2 separate regions of the Homo sapiens genome follow, and region 1 is linked to region 2. The links come from fine-mapping of genetic effects on gene expression. A gene starts in region 2. The other region holds a variant in brackets. All regions are shown on one strand. Distances are between the middles of the regions. Region 1 overlaps TNIP1 (TNFAIP3 interacting protein 1). Region 2 holds the start of GPX3 (glutathione peroxidase 3).

Region 1 (5,000 bases), 32 kb after region 2:
CTATGCACACAAGACCTTCCGGATATATCCAAACACTGCATTAAATAACCCTGGATCACATTCTAGTGAGAAAGTGACACCCTTTCCAATTATCTTCACATTTCTTGTGTAGACCACGGAGACGGTGCGAGCTTGGTGCTAACAGGCCCTGGGCACCTCTCTAGTTACTCGCCAGTTTCCCTCGTTAACACAGAAGGTGCAGGCTGCAGGCCCAGAGCCTTCAATGTGCAATGATCCTTAGCCTGAATTTATTAACATCCTTTCACTTTCATTGTATTTAGAGTTATCTTCTATTTATCACAGGTAATGCTGTTTTCCATTTACTCTAGTTAAAGTTGCCTTTATAATTTTAAGTAAAAAGATGAATCAAATTAAAGTAAAATTCTAAGTAACTAATAAGGCAGGTGATAGAGGAGATCATAAAATTAGTGATGTGGATTCAGGTCTGACTAAAATGTTTCTTCTTTCTTTTTTTTGAGATAGGGTCTCGTTCTGTCACCCAGGCTGGAGTACAGTGGCCCAATCTCGGCTCACCACAGCCTCGACTGCTCCTACTCAAGTAATCCTCCCACCTCAGCCACCCCCAACCTCCCCCACCACACACCCCCACCCTCTTGAGTAGCTGGGACTACAGGCACACCACCACACCCAGCTAATTTTTTTGGTATTTTTTGTTGGGGCTGGGGGAGGGGTGGTGATGTATTTCACCAGGCTGGTCTCAAACTCATGGACTCAAAGCAATCCTCCCGCCTTAACGTCCCAAAGTGCTGGGATTACAGGTGTGAGCCACAACGCCCAACCACCACTTCTTTATGTTCTATTTGCCAGCTGAGTTTCCGCTTGAAAAACCAATAAGTAAAATGACTTTCCCAAGGTCATACAGCAGAGACTTGCATTCTTGCCTTCTAATCCGTGACTTTTTTCCCCAGCTTCAGTTTCTGAATCCATGGATGGGGTCACTAGGGCTATAAAAACCCCAAAAGTGCATCCTTGGCCATCCAAAAGCAAATAAATTACACACTGATTCAAAATAGCCAGTGGCTCAGTAGTTAAACATTACTTCTGTGGCCATACTTACAAAGTTTATATTCCTTCTCTTTCTGTTGATTCTAATAAGAAACAGGAGAGGAGGGAAAAACAGAGTGGCAAGTCCTGTCTGTGACACGGGCCTTTCCTATGTGCCTGAGCCCAGCTGGTACCCACCAGATGACTCATCACCCAAACTGTCCAGGACCACAGTGCAGGCAGGAATTGTGGCCACTCACAGGATGGAGAGCAAGGAGGCCCAAGTTCCTGTTGTAAGACTCCAATCAAGTCCCTGCCTCTCCCTGGGCCTCAGTTTCCCCTCTGCACAGTGAGAGGTCTGTCTGCATGATCTCCAAGGGCTTGTCAAGCTCTGACAGTCAAGATCAGTGTTTCCCAAGGCGTGATCCTGTGCCTACCTCGTTCATAATCACAGAGACTCCTGGTGAAATGCAGGCTCCTAGGTCTTGCCTAAGACCTGTCAATTCAGAATCTTGCAAAGGAAGGAAGGGAAGGCGTATAAACTTGTAATGCCTTTCCCTGACCCTCAACCCTCAGTTAAGTCTAAGCCCCCTAGTCCAGTGGGGGAGCTCTCATGTTCTCAGGAAGACAGAGCAGGTTGGGATGGTGACCAGCAGGAGGCAGCAAAGTCCTGAGTCCTCTGGACAGCCAGTTCACCGTTAACAGGGGAGAGAGGCAAGTGCTGGAGGAGGAAGGAAGTACAATCTATGCTGACCTTCTTCTGAAGCTCTCAAGGCACTCTATACACCTCCCAAGGTGGCAAAAGGGCCAGAGAGAAAATACCAAAAGAGCCAAGGAGAAGGATCAAGAGACGTAACCTCCAAATAGGGCTCTGGGCACAGGGCCTCAGAGCCACGGTCCTCAACCCAGAAATCAGTGCTGCACACCAGCCCCTCCTCCTGCAGCCCCCACTCCTCACCCCTTCTCTGAGGGGCCTGAACTTACCGCAGCCTCTCGGCAGCCTGATCCCGCTGTTCCAGGCCCTTATCCAACTTGGCCTTCAGAGCCTCGTTCTCCTTCCGAAGCTGCTCACACAGGGTCTGTGGGGCAGGGGAACAGACAGGGTGAGGGAAAGGAGGGGCCCCTCCCAGGTGCAGGCTGAGCTAGAGGATGGTGGGGGGCCTGTAGCCACCCCAGGGCCCAACTCCTTATCCCCTTTGCCTGGCCTCACCCCATCCCTCTCTAAGGAGCTAAGCCACTTGGCCACCCACGTGTCCTCTCCCTTGGGAGCCAACTACGGAGAAGCCTGACCAAGTATCAGCCATGGGGCCTTCTGCTCCTCCAAGACAGACAGCTCCATCCCTTCTCCTTCATCCCTGCTCCCACTGCCGGGACCCCTATTCCCCACCAGCCTCCCCCAGCTGACTTCTACCCTTCTTTGAAGTCTTAGTTTAAATCCCATCTCCTCAGAGAAGTCCTCCCTGACTCCCCGATCCAGCTACATTAGGCTAACTCCGTTATCCTTGCTCACAGCCCCCCGCTTTTACGCTTCTCAGCACCTGTGGCAGATAAAGCTAAAGAACTGTTCGTGCTGCTGTTTTCTTAATATCTACCCCCTTACCCCTAATTAATTCCTGAGCTCCCGGAGGGCTGGGACCCCTAACCATCCTCTTGTTCACTGCCAGATCCCCAGCCCCCAGCTCAAAGTTTGTGGAAGGAACAACATGACTGAACAGCCAAATGAGCAAATGGACAAATGAGCAGGCGAGTCCTAGGGGGGCTGAAAGGCACACCAATTTGCAGGTGTGAGAGGTGCCCAGTGTTGCCAAGGGGAAAACCAGAAGACAAGGCATTCAGTCGGGACCTCACTATGCCCTCACGCCCTCACAATGTGGCTGTGACACTTGGTTCCTCCTCTACAAAAGAAAGACAACTG[T/C]TTCTCTTTTTTTTTTTTTTTTTTTTTTTTTTAAGACAGAGTCTCACTCTGTTGCCCAGGCTGGACTGCAGTAGCATGATCTCAGCTCACTGCAACCTCCACCTCCCAGGTTCAAGAGATTCTCCTGCCTCAGCCTCCTGAGTAGCTGGAACTACAGGTGTGTGCCACCATGCCTGGCTAATTTTTGTATTTTCAGTACAGACGGGGTTTCACCATGTTGGCCAGGCTGGTATCAAACTCCTGACCTCAAGTGATCCACCTGCCTCAGTCTCCCAAAGTGCTGGGATTACAGGCATGAGCCACCACACCTAGCCCAGGGACAACTGTTTCTTCTCTGCCTCCTCTATAGGGCTGCTGAGAGGGACAGATGAGACAGTGAGAGTGGAAGTGTCCATGAACCATCAGTCACTTGCTTATGTGCGGGGACTCATATTGGAAGCTCTGTGAACTGGGGGCATGGAAGAGGGGTCGCCAGACTCAGGACCTCACAGGCTGGGGGGAAGGGAAGGTGCTGACTAGCAATGCTAGCATACAGTGTCAGCACAGAGTTGTTCAATCTTTCCACAGATCCTCACTGAGCACCTCACCTGTGCCAGGTACATTGCTCGGTGTTTCTCCATATACTGCCTCACTGGTGCCTCACAACTTCCTCAAAGCTAAGTAACTCATCTCTATGTTAAAGGTAGGGAAACCAGGTAAAATGATACAGTCTAACAGGTGCACAGCTGCTAAGACTCATCACTGGCGGGGAGTAAAACTCCAATTGGCAGACCCCACACTGGTGTCTCTTTCCCCTGTGATGAAAGATCAGAGAAGGGAGAGAGATGGTGCCCAAAGGAGGGGACAGCCTTTGAGCTGGGCCAGGACCAGGGCCATTCACTAAACAGCCATCTGCTGCCTTCCACCTCCCAGGCCTGTTGCAGGTGGATGCAACCATGTGACTAGTTCTGGCCAACAAAAGAGGTGTAGAAGGGACAAGCATCACTCCTGGACTGGCCTACGCACAATTCTCCAGTCTCTTTTTCCTGGTAGCAGGGGCTGATGTGGATGCCTCGTATTCTAAAGGGCACCGGAAAGTTGGGCCCCTGTCTCCCTGGGACTCTAAGGAACTGTGTAGAGCAGAAACAAACCCCTGCCACACAGAATAGGAGGGAAAACTTTTGTTGTGTAACCCAGGGAGATTTCAGAGTTGTTTCATTTCTGACTCACAAAGGAGACTCTTGGGAAGGCTGAATGGAGGACACAGCCTTCAACTGGAGGTGGCTGGACAATGAGGGAGATGAGGCTTAGCAAACAGAGAACCAGCTGGGCATGGTGGCTCACACCAGTAATCCCAGCACTTTGGGAGGCTGAGGCAGGAGGATCACTTGAGCCCAGGAGTTCAACACCAGTCTGGGCAACATGGCAAAACCCTGTCTCTACTAAAAATACCAAAAAATTGGCCAGGCATAAGGGCGCATGCATGTAGTCTCAGCTATTCAGGGAACTGAGGTGGGAGAACTGAGCCCAGGAGGTCAAGGCTGTAGTGAGCTGTGGTCGCACCACTGCACTCCAGCCTGGGTGGCGGAGCAAGACCCTGTCCCCCAACACCCCTTAAAAAAAAGAAATCAAAAAATTATTGTTATGAGTCCATTCAATGCCTAGCAGAGAGCCTTATGCTATACCTGACCTTGAATATGTTTGTTTAGTGAACCAAGAAACACATCAGTGAATGAATGAGGAGGAACTGGATCAATACACCTCCACCCAGGCAGTAAAAATACCCAAGATGCCATGTCTCTGGGCGAGGCCTCCAGGGAACAGAATGGCCTGCTCCTAGTCCCTAAGGGAAGGCCAGGACAAGGCCTCACTTGCTGTCCTACCCTTGCAGTCTAGAGAGCTGTTTCCTTGGAGTCTCTGGGCCAATGCCCTGGGTGCAAACCGGCCAATGGATAGAATCATCAGAGGTCACAAAGATCATCACCTTCCATCCAAGGTGCTACGAGAGCTATGAGTTCATTTGATCATTTATTATTTTGTCCTTTCATTCATTCACCAAGTGTGTATGAAGTGCCACGAACTGGGACGCAACAGTGAATAC
Region 2 (5,516 bases):
GAAAACAAGTCAACCAAATGTATTTAAAAGGCTGCTGATGAAAAGATTGGGAAGTATTGTTTTCATTCTCATTGTTTTCACTGTCATGCTCTTTGTGCCAATGGTTAGACCTCCTTTGAAAGCTCACTGCAGCATGAAAGCCCTTCTTAATGCCAGGGCAGGCTCCCCAAGCCTCCCCACCCCACTGTCCATGTCATCAGTTTTGTACTCCTGTTTTGTATGGCTCAGGCTTTCCTTATACTCTTAGGAATGAAAAGCCACAGACACCACCACTGAGAGACTGTCAAAGATCCTTGTTAAATAGGTGGACAACTGAGATCAGAGAAGGAAAGTAATTTTATTACTTTCCGTAGCAATCCAGGGGTAGCATCTCAGGTCTCTGGCTCCTTCTTGTCTCCCCTAAAGAAATAGACCACCAGGGCTGGGATTAAGGTGAGACAAGTGAGACATAGAGGGTGCAAAATGTAGAGAGATGCCCGCTGCCAGGTGCCAGCCTGCACTTGTGTGACCCTAGGTGCCTTCCCTTCCCTCACCCTGCTGGTATCTGCTGGAAACACCTTTGAGAGCAGGGACTTTGGCTTTTAGACAACTCTTTAGCATCTCTCATGGTGTTAACATGTTGCTAGGTGCCTATTTTGAGGGTCACTAGATGCCTACTGATACTAATGAACAATGGATTTCTGACAAACTGATGTGCACACAGATGTTTATATTTTAGGGTAAATACGAACCTTAAAAGACAACAGAACAACATGGAGAGGGCCTGAGACTGAGTCTAGAGACCTGGATTCTGGTTCCCTCCCTGCCATCAGTTGGTTATGGGAACTTGGATAAATTGCTCCTCATCTCTAGGCTTCAGGGAAATGAGGTGGTTGAATAAAACGTATTGAGCACTTACTGTGTGTCAGCCATTGTTCATATGCTCCCAGGCTTTAACTCAGCTAAAGACTTCCTGGCCTCTGTGGTTCCTTCCACTTCAACAGGCTGTGGTTTGAGGTGGGAAGACTTCGTAGAGAATGCAAAACTTGAGAGACATCTTCCAAATTCCCAGGGGGATGTTAATACCTTTAATCATAGTAAAGGTATGGTTTCTCAAGGCATTTCTTGGTCAGAAGAAAGTTCCAGAAGGCACTTAATCCTAGGACTCACACTACCAAGGCTACAGCCAGGCCAACTGCCTCACAATAACCTTAGAACATGTCTGAAGACAGATTTTCAGCTTCTGCCCCTAGAGATTCTAATGCAGTGATTCCAAAGTGGGGTCCAGGAATCTGTATTAAAGGCTTCCCAGTTGACTCTGGTGGTCAGAGAGATTTGAGACTGATTCCATCACATTCCCCATCTGTGAACGGGATCATACCTAGACAGCCCAGCCCTAGAACTGCCTGGTCTGATCCTAAGTGTTCCATGGAGATTTTGTTTTTTTAATGTAATGAATGATTAAGTCAGCAAATACTTTACATCTCTTGTGTGCTAGGCCCTGTGCCAGGTGGTGATTATGGGCCCTATTCTCAAAGGACTCCTGGTCTCCGTCTGTCACTTACTTTAGAAACAAGTCATCTAGCCAGAGCCAGAAGGGCACTGGAGATCACTAATCAATCCCATCATTACATAGCTGAGGAAACTGAGGCCCAGAGAGTAACTGCAACATGTTAAAGACTACACAGGGAGCAAATTTATTTTCTGCTTCTAAGCCAGGTGGTTTGGCCACAGATAGGCCAAGAAGAATACGAACAGACAAGCCTTGCTGGGTTTCCCACTCAGTTTATTACTATTAGACCATTCCCTTTTTCCCCACTCACATTTCTGCGCATTTCCATGGTCTTCATAGAATCTAAGCCTAAAAATAGAGTTTTCCTTGAGTCTTTGGGTCTTCATTTCTGAAGACTCTCATGTCACAGAAAACTTTAATTAAATAAATCGTTATGCTTTTCTCTTGCTAACCTTTTTCTACAGGCATGTCAGCTGTGATCCTTATGATGGGGAGGAAAGGCACCCCACCTTCTCTGTCCCTACAGTCCTAATGCCCTACCCAGAATGGGGTTTTCAAAATCCCAGGACACCCACTCTTTGTTTCTTAAGCACTAAACCTATATATAGTAAATGTTTCTGGAAGTTTAACTTCAGCTCTTGCTGAAATTTTAAACCCTCAATTTCCAGAGGACCATCGCCAGGTGTTTTTAAAACCTCGATAGGAATAAGAAATGCTTCCCAGAATGGAGACTTCCATCAGTTCTAGGGAGCTATTAGCCCCCTTGCCCTGGCTGTAATGGAGACCGCTGTGTCTGCCTCCTTTCGCACTTTGGAGCCAAAAGAGGAAGGGACCGCCTCCCACGTCCACAGGGACCTGACTTCCACCTCTCTGCCCAGATTTGCTTATGTCACTGTCGCCCCGGGACGGGGAGGTGGGGAGCTGAGGGCAAGTCGCGCCCGCCCCTGAAATCCCAGCCGCCTAGCGATTGGCTGCAAGGGTCTCGGCTTGGCCGCGGATTGGTCACACCCGAGGGCTTGAAAGGTGGCTGGGAGCGCCGGACACCTCAGACGGACGGTGGCCAGGGATCAGGCAGCGGCTCAGGCGACCCTGAGTGTGCCCCCACCCCGCCATGGCCCGGCTGCTGCAGGCGTCCTGCCTGCTTTCCCTGCTCCTGGCCGGCTTCGTCTCGCAGAGCCGGGGACAAGAGAAGTCGAAGGTGAGTGAGCCTCCGGGCCGGGGGCCGGGAGAAAAAACCTAGCCCCTCGGTGTCCAGCGCTCAGTGCAATGCACCCCTTTTCCCAGGCTCCCCGCCAGATGGGCAATCCCCAGGTGCGAGAGACCTCCTGAACCCCTTTTGCCGCCCCCTCCGCCGCCGGGACCCCGCCCCCGACCGTCGTCGTCTCGTAGTTCCATCTGTTGGAGAGCCGAGACCTGGTGCTTCAGGCGGGCAGAATGACTAAGGGAGGAAGGTCTCTCTCCCCGAGCTCGCACTTTCTCCCCACTGCCACCTCGAGGGTCGCCTTGCTACATCTATGTCACCTCCGTGCCTGAGCTGCTCCCCTTCAGTAGGGCCTAAGAGGGAGGGCGTCACAGAAAAAAATGCCCAGCGTCTGGGTGGGCTGTGCAAGTTCCCAGGGAGAGAGACAAGGAGAAAGGAGAGAGGCAGCTGGGTGGTCCTGGTCCTGAAGAACTGCTGTGGGGGGCTCTTCTACCCCAAGAATGATACAGGCAGGTAGAAATGGCCACTTGGATTCAGGGCATTGGTAGAAGAGGCAGAGATCTGTGCTAGAAAGAGCTCTGGAGTGACAGTGCAGAACACTCAGGACCCTGAGTCCTTACCTGCTCCTGGACCCCCGTTTCTCCATCTGCAGGGGAGAGTTTGGGGGTGGGAGTGCATGGGGCACAATGAAGCTGAGGGCCTCAGAGGGGATGCTTGGAGAAGCTGAAAAATCCACAAGCTGTTCTCTGAAATTTCCTCCCCTGGGGCAGCCTCACTACCCAGGACCCACTGTCCTCATTAGCCTGAGGAAACCTGGTAGTTGGAGAAAGCTGGGGACTGCTAATTCAGAAGAAGAGGTAGAATTCTCTAGAGCCTCAGTCTATTTCCAGCAGGTGTGTGGCCCACACCTGGAGTGGGGATACTGAGGCCAGGAGTGGGATGACCCAGCATGCTTATCTCCTTTGACAGTATGTACTGGGGTGGGCTCTGTAGACCTCTCCTCTACCCAGGGAGTGGGAGTGGGTGGGGAAGGAGGCAGAAGCCAGGTGTAGGGATAGACTCAAAGCGAGCGATTTCTGTCTCCAACTTCCCAACATGCATAACTCACATTTTTGCAAGCTCTGAGCTTTTGTTTCTAAAATCCTCTGGGTCTTCACTTTAATTAAGTTCTTATGAGTCTAGGATTCCGTTTCCAAAATTCTGTCCACTTCTCAGGAAGCCCATTGGAAGCACAGGGTTCCTTCCATGTTACTCACCCCTTTTCGGTCCTCAGCCTAAATCCGATTAATCAGCCTCTCCTTGGAGTCAGTCTAAATGGATGTGAAGCCACTTCGTCCAAGTCCCCTCCTTTTTATCCATCCCTGTTCATAATCCCCAACTCAGAAGGCATTTTCCAGGTCAGGAATGGGATCGATTTTCAACATTGAGGTTTGGGGTGGGCCATAGACAGGCCAGCACCGTGGAGTCAGTCCCAACCTTCAGTTTTGGAAAGGTCAAAGAAGATACAATTGGGCCCTGCCTCAAGAAGGCTAGTGGGGAGAACGTGGACTCCATGAATAACTCATCATAGCTGTGTCTTCTCTGCAGCACTCTGGGGAAGGATAAATGGACTCAGAGAGAATAGGATGGGGATGGTCTAGAAAAGTTTTAGGGTGAGGTGTGATCATATCACATACAACCAGTCAGGACTTGCTGGCTAATGAAAGCCTGGGCATGCCCATCTCTGCTCCCAAGTTCTTAGAGTTCAGATGTCTTAGCTCTGGGTTAGGACCCAACCACTCACCTTACCCCCAACCCCAGGGTAAAGAGATAGGGTTATGGGGCATGTGGAGAATGGAATGGACGAAAGGTGACTCAGCCCCAGAGAGGTGTTTTCCTCCTACCAATTGAAAGGGAGATGCTAGGGAAGAGACCAGGTCCTCCTCTTCTTGCTGCGTCACCTCCCCAGTCCAACTTCAGGCTGCCCACGCTCCTTGTCTCTACAAAAGGACTGCAGAAGCCGGAAAGAGTGACAACTGCTGACGTGCACGGGATCCTAGTAACTGCTGGTTTCTAGGTGACTAAACCTGGCAGAGAGAATCATGGAACCACAGGCTGACAGAGTTAAAGGGCCCTTAAGACAGCCCTGAACCTGACTCCATCTTACAATGGAGGAGCTGGAGCCCCAGCAAAGGGGGTCACATGGCATCAGAGACACAGCAAAGCCCAGCACTCAGGTCTCCTGACTCCCAGACCACTTCTCACAGCATCATATTGATAGGAGTAATAAGACGGGAGAGGAGAAAGACACAAGACCAGCAGCCCCAGCCAGCCAGAGTCCTGGCTGAGTCCCATCATCCAACTCTCAAGCCATTGGAACCCTCTTCTCTTGCCCGGCTGTGGGAGGATTCAGGCACCCTCATGGCCTCTCCCCTTATCTCCTCTGGCCACTGTTTCAGATGCGGTGCTCTGGGATTCCACGTGCCCAGAGAAGGGAAGGGGGCTCATAGAGGACTGAGTTGCAGTGATCAGTGGTGAGCACAGCCGTGGCTCTCCACCCATGGGCCACCTTCTGACCCCCACTATCCCTTGACATGAGATTTCGTTCCAAGAGACTCCAGGCCTGTTTTGCTCTGCCAGCAGATTCCCACAACCATTTTGGGCAGCAGCATGCTTATCTCCCTGGACATATGCCCAGACAGTGTAAGTGACTTGCTCAGGGCCACACAGCCAGCAAAAAATAGAACCTAATGAAATAGGGTTCTCCTTGCCACACCCCCAAGCTGAAACTGTGCCCAGAAGCTGGTCCTTCTGTTTACAAGTTCCCATTATTAGGACAACCTG

What was found.
Region 1: its variant is fine-mapped to the expression of GPX3 in whole blood (TOPMed, PIP 0.96).

What each region holds. Positions count from the first base shown.
Region 1 is chr5:151,050,176-151,055,175 of GRCh38, forward strand. TNIP1 (TNFAIP3 interacting protein 1) reads right to left here. Exons shown (of 18, transcript NM_006058.5): 7 at 1,990-2,084. Among named protein-coding and RNA genes, the nearest start is that of TNIP1, 28 kb to the right of the region's middle. The variant T/C (reference allele first, on the strand shown) is at 2,921.
Region 2 is chr5:151,018,052-151,023,567 of GRCh38, forward strand. GPX3 (glutathione peroxidase 3) reads left to right here and starts at 2,540. Exons shown (of 5, transcript NM_002084.5): 1 at 2,540-2,690. The coding sequence starts at 2,604. RefSeq lists an enhancer at 3,985-5,184.